2 separate regions of the Homo sapiens genome follow, and region 2 is linked to region 1. Evidence: fine-mapped expression QTL. A gene starts in region 1. The other region holds a variant in brackets. All regions are shown on one strand. Distances are between the middles of the regions.

The links. PIP is the estimated chance that this variant, and not a neighbour inherited with it, causes the effect. A credible set is the group of variants that fine-mapping cannot tell apart.
Region 2: its variant is the best candidate, but not a certain one, in a credible set for the expression of MRPS33 in monocytes (BLUEPRINT, PIP 0.71).

The regions. Positions count from the first base shown.
Region 1 is chr7:141,013,469-141,016,376 of GRCh38, reverse strand. It overlaps MRPS33 (mitochondrial ribosomal protein S33), which reads left to right and starts at 1,425. Exons shown (of 3, transcript NM_053035.3): 1 at 1,425-1,466. RefSeq lists enhancers at 897-1,096, 1,617-1,666, 1,129-1,774 and a silencer at 1,244-1,552.
Region 2 is chr7:141,065,891-141,068,798 of GRCh38, reverse strand. All of the region lies in intron 2 of LOC105375537 (a long non-coding RNA gene), which reads right to left. Among named protein-coding and RNA genes, the nearest start is that of TMEM178B, 6.7 kb to the left of the region's middle. RefSeq lists an enhancer at 1,086-1,680. The variant A/G (reference allele first, on the strand shown) is at 1,336.

The sequences.
Region 1 (2,908 bases):
TTATTATAGCAGCCTCAGGAAACTAATATGAACCCCCATGAAATTGACTTAATAAAAGTGATAGTGCAAAGTACCTAAACAGTCACCTGAAACTCTATATACCTAGCTATGTTTCAAGAAAGATTTATGGTAGCTTATAGTAATTCACAAAACATTGATAACACCAATAATTCATACGTGAAAAGGAAAAAACAGGAAGGATATACAAAACGAAGCCAACAAGGTTTATGCAAAAAATATATATATGTGTGTGTATATATATATATACACACACATATATATAGCTCTTGCCTCGAGCCAATTAAAATTTGGCTTTAAACCAGCAGCTTACACGTAAAGGAAGTCTTCTTGTTTATATGATTCAGTGGCCATTACATAAAAACAAGCCAACTCCACAGAAACAAGTACAAAAGACAAGACGAAATTTCTCCCAGGAGTTTCGCTCCTTAGGACTTCTTTTCTGGACTGTAGCCATGTATAGGATACTCATTACCCCTTTGTAAACTTAAATGTAGTCACTAGACCCAACTTTATAAGGCTGTTTACTATATCATATAAGGCTGATAACATGTCAAAACTTAACTTGATAAAAGCAAATCCTATAGCATAGATTGATTAGACGTCAAATTCTAACTTAAAAGTAAATTCTGTAGGAGGAAAGAGGGTGTAAATACAATACCCACTAGGTAGGCAACTCACTACCGATATTAATTCCAGGGTACATTTTGAAATATTTATAAAATGCCTTGAACGATACTCAGAAAACGAGTACAGTTTCCTCACCCAAACTATCAAACATTGAGTAAGTGCTGCATACAATGCCTATGGGATGTGGCTTGCTTGAAAACAGATTTAGTATGGGGTGAAATACTCACAATGCTTTCTACTATCTGCCCAGCGAGGTCTAAGATAACTACTGAGGAGACAAACGTTCCATCCCCTACTCCCTGAAGAAGCTCCTGGGTCAATGGGGGAAAGCGCTCCTAACCCAGTAGCAAGGAAGGCTTGCAGCTAGGGATCCTAATTAACTATTAGAAGATGAGCAGATAGATGGAAGGGGAGGGGGATGGCGCCGCAAGTCGGTCAGAAAGACCACACGGCACACGCATCGCCATTGCTTCAGAGCTTTTGGAGGCAGGTCTGTAGCCATTCCCACCAAAACATACTACCGAACCGTGCATGCCCTTCCAGGAGAGCCAGACCTTTCTAACTCTCCCCAGCCCACCACCTCCCCGGGTCCTCCGCACAGGCGGCGGCGCTAGCCTTACTGCGCAGGCGCCAGGTACACCTCGGAGGCCTCAGGAGGGGGAGCCAGTAACTCCGGGTCGTTCACTAGGGCTCCGCTCTAGCTGCCAAGCTTCCGTTTCTCTACTGCTCCCCGTAATAGTTGCCTGCGCGAGCTTGGAGCCGGGTAGAGGGCGGGCCTTCCGGGACGAGGGCGCGTGGGTGAGGAAGGTCAGGTCTAGGTAAGGCTGTCGGTGACTTTGGGGGTCTGCAGCAAGGGGCGATGGCTGCGAAGTCTACGGGGGTCTCCAACCTTGTAGAGTCGCCAGGAATAGGGCGAATCCACTTCATTAGTGACCAGCTCGGGCGGTTCACGTGCATCACACAAATAACTTGGCCTTTTTCTGCCTCAGTTGGGGGATTTCTTAAACGTAGAATACCCGCGTTTCCGCTGCCGTAATTTCCTCTCAGGCGCAATTACTCTCTTCCATATTGGTTAACAGTAGAAGGCTCAGTTTCTCTGCTCATCACACGGCCTTCGGCACTGTAGCTTTGGGTGGTGGGCTGCAGATTAATTTTGTAACCACCTTAAGAAAAATACGGTAAGGTGATATTTAAGAAAAATATTTGCGAAATGCGCTCCCGAGTCAAACATCGGTTGACTTGACAATACTACAGTTTCCATCACAGTCAGGCATGATCGAGTCAGGTGGAGGGAGTTGAAGATTGTTCTTGATGAACTGAATGCAGCTAATACATTTTCAGTGCCGTTGATGCCTCTATGACTCCGTAAAATAATCGGTACCGGGTTTTTTTGTTTTTAAGCATTCTGTTGAGATTGTTTTTATGTTTAGATTGTTTCTATGACAACGTGTGTACACTGTATGTGAATTCCTTGGATCCTGATGGTTATTAGGGTGGGCACTGTGCCGTGAATTTTGCATATTAGCTTCACATCGCAGATAGTATGACTGTCCTCGTGTAGTCGATGAGAGAACCTGGCAGAGAATAAGCACCATTACAAAAACGACGTGGCCATTAAAAGGCAGAGGCGAGATTCCAACCAGCTTTTTTATTCTGCAGCTGGTGCGTTCTGCTAACCAATGGTTTTTGGGAAACTGGAGAAAGCTCTCTCCCAGAACAATTTACACACACACATACATACACATATCGGCATACAGATGTACACTTCCACTGTTTTCAAAACGCTGAAGCACATCCCGGTTAAGAACTCTTGCACTTCATCTTTACCTTTCAAAGAGAAAAGGCAAACCTAATACAAAGCCACTTATTGAAATAATCTTTTAAATGCATCAGACCTATCAAAAAGATCAAAGAAGTTTGCCCTGTTATGCCAAAGTAAAAATATGGGAATTTTCTTCTCATGTGGGCTTAATTTGTTTTGCTCAGCACATTTGAGTAATTTGTTTTTGCTTAGCATTTTCAGCTCCAGTTAACTTTTTTCATGAGAGTACAGTTTTCTTTAGTTCACATTTAAAGAAAGGTAACACTTAAAGTGACTTGTACTCCCCGAGAATGGTTTCATGTGAATCAAAATGTAATTGACATGCACGTTGTAAGAAAAGCTCCCGTGTTATTCTTCGTGAGAGACATGTGTCTGTGCACTGTGGAAGGAAACAACAAAGCAGTGTCATTGGTAATTGTTAAAACCACTTTCAGTTTC
Region 2 (2,908 bases), 52 kb before region 1:
TGGCCAACATGGTGAAACCCCATCTCTACTAAAAATACAAAAATTAGCCAGGCATGGTGGCAGGTGCCTGTTATCCCAGCTACTTGGGAGGCTGAGGCAGGAGAATCACTTGAACCCAAGAGGTAGAGGTTGCAGTGAGCCAAGATCACACCACTGCACTCCAACCTGGGTGACAGAGTGAGACTCAGTATCAAAAAAAAAAAAAAAAAGTCAGCTTTAGAGAGTCATATTAGTTTAACTACCTTCCTTCTCTTCTTCCTCATCTTCCTCCACCCCACCACCATATTAATCTTCTTAAATTCCACAGTTATCCTTTAAAATCCTGTAGTAGGGTTGGGCACAGTGGCTCACGCCTGGAATCCCAGCTTTGGGAGGCCAAGGAGGGCAGATCACTTGAGTCTGGGAGTTCGAGACCAGCCTGGCCAACATGGCAAAACCCCATCTCTGCTAAAAATACAAAAATAAGCCAGGCATGGTGGTGCAGGCCTGCAATCCCAGCTATTCGGGAGGCTGAGGCACGAGAATCACTTGAATCCAGGAGGTAGAGACTGCAGTGAGCGGAGATCATGCTGCTGTACTCCAGCCTGGGTGACAGAATGAGAGTCTGTCTTAAAAATAAAATAAAATAAAATTCTGCAGTAGTTTCACTTTGTCTGTACCTTAAAGTTCAGACCTTTTACATCTCTATAAGACCCTGCCCAGGGCTTCAGCCTAGCCTCTAACGATGACTTCCTCACTCTCAAAGAAACACCCTCGGGTGGAGGAGCCAAGATGGCCGAATAGGAACAGCTCTGGTCTACAGCTCCCAGCGTGAGCGACGCAGAAGACGGGTGATTTCTGCATTTCCATCTGAGGTACCGGGTTCATCTCACTAGGGAGTGCCAGACAGTGGGCGCAGGCCAGTGTGTGCGCGCACCGTGCGTGAGCCGAAGCAGGGCGAGGCATTGCCTCACCTGGGAAGCGCAAGGGGTCAGGGAGTTCCCTTTCCGAGTCAAAGAAAGGGGTGACGGACGCACCTGGAAAATCGGGTCACTCCCACCCGAATATTGCGCTTTTCAGACCGGCTTAAGAAACGGCGCACCACGAGACTATATCCCACACCTGGCTCAGAGGGTCCTACGCCCACGGAATCTCGCTGATTGCTAGCACAGCAGTCTGAGATCAAACTGCAAGGCGGCAACGAGGCTGGGGGAGGGGCGCCCGCCATTGCCCAGGCTTGCTTAGGTAAACAAAGCAGCCGGGAAGCTCGAACTGGGTGGAGCCCACCACAGCTCAAGGAGGCCTGCCTGCCTCCGTAGGCTCCACCTCTGGGGGCAGGGCACAGACAAACAAAAA[A/G]ACAGCAGTAACCTCTGCAGACTTAAGTGTCCCTGTCTGACAGCTTTGAAGAGAGCAGTGGTTCTCCCAGCACGCAGCTGGAGATCTGAGAACGCGCAGACTGCCTCCTCAAGTGGGTCCCTGACCCCTGACCCCCGAGCAGCCTAACTGGGAGGCACCCCCCAGCAGGGGCACACTGACACCTCACACGGCAGGGTATTCCAACAGACCTGCACCTGAGGGTCCTGTCTGTTAGAAGGAAAACTAACAACCAGAAAGGACATCTACACCGAAAACCCATCTGTACATCACCATCATCAAAGACCAAAAGTAGATAAAACCACAAAGATGGGGAAAAAACAGAACAGAAAAACTGGAAACTCTAAAAAGCAGAGCGCCTCTCCTCCTCCAAAGGAACGCAGTTCCTCACCAGCAATGGAACAAAACTGGATGGAGAATGATTTTGACGAGCTGAGAGAAGAAGGCTTCAGACGATCAAATTACTCTGAGCTACGGGAGGACATTCAAACCAAAGGCAAAGAAGTTGAAAACTTTGAAAAAAATTTAGAAGAATGTATAACTAGAATAACCAATACAGAGAAGTGCTTAAAGGAGCTGATGGAGCTGAAAACCAAGGCTCGAGAACTACGTGAAGAATGCAGAAGCCTCAGGAGCCGATGCGATCAACTGGAAGAAAGGGTATCAGCAATGGAAGATGAAATGAATGAAATGAAGCGAGAAGGGAAGTTTAGAGAAAAAAGAATAAAAAGAAATGAGCAAAGCCTCCAAGAAATATGGGACTATGTGAAAAGACCAAATCTACGTCTGATTGGTGTACCTGAAAGTGATGTGGAGAATGGAACCAAGTTGGAAAACACTCTGCAGGATATTATCCAGGAGAACTTCCCCAATCTAGCAAGGCAGGCCAACGTTCAGATTCAGGAAATAGAGAGAATGCCACAAAGATACTCCTCAAGAAGAGCAACTCCAAGACACATAATTGTCAGATTCACCAAAGTTGAAATGAAGGAAAAAATGTTAAGGGCAGCCAGAGAGAAAGGTCGGGTTACCCTCAAAGGAAAGCCCATCAGACTAACAGCAGTTCTCTCGGCAGAAACCCTACAAGCCAGAAGAGAGTGGGGGCCAATATTCAACATTCTTAAAGAAAAGAATTTTCAACCCAGAATTTCATATCCAGCCAAACTAAGCTTCATAAGTGAAGGAGAAATAAAATACTTTATAGAGAAGCAAATGCTGAGAGATTTTGTCACCACCAGGCCTGCCCTAAAAGAGCTCCTGAAGGAAGCGCTAAACATGGAAAGGAACAACCGGTACCAGCCGCTGCAAAATCATGCCAAAATGTAAAGACCATCGAGACTAGGAAGAAACTGCATCAACTAATGAGCAAAATCACCAGCTAACATCATAATGACAGGATCAAATTCACACATAACAATATTAACTTTAAATATAAATGGACTAAATTCTGCAATTAAAAGACACAGACTGGCAAGTTGGATAAAGAGTCAAGACCCATCAGTGTGCTGTATTCAGGAAACCCATCTCACGTGCAGAGACACACATAGGCTCAAAA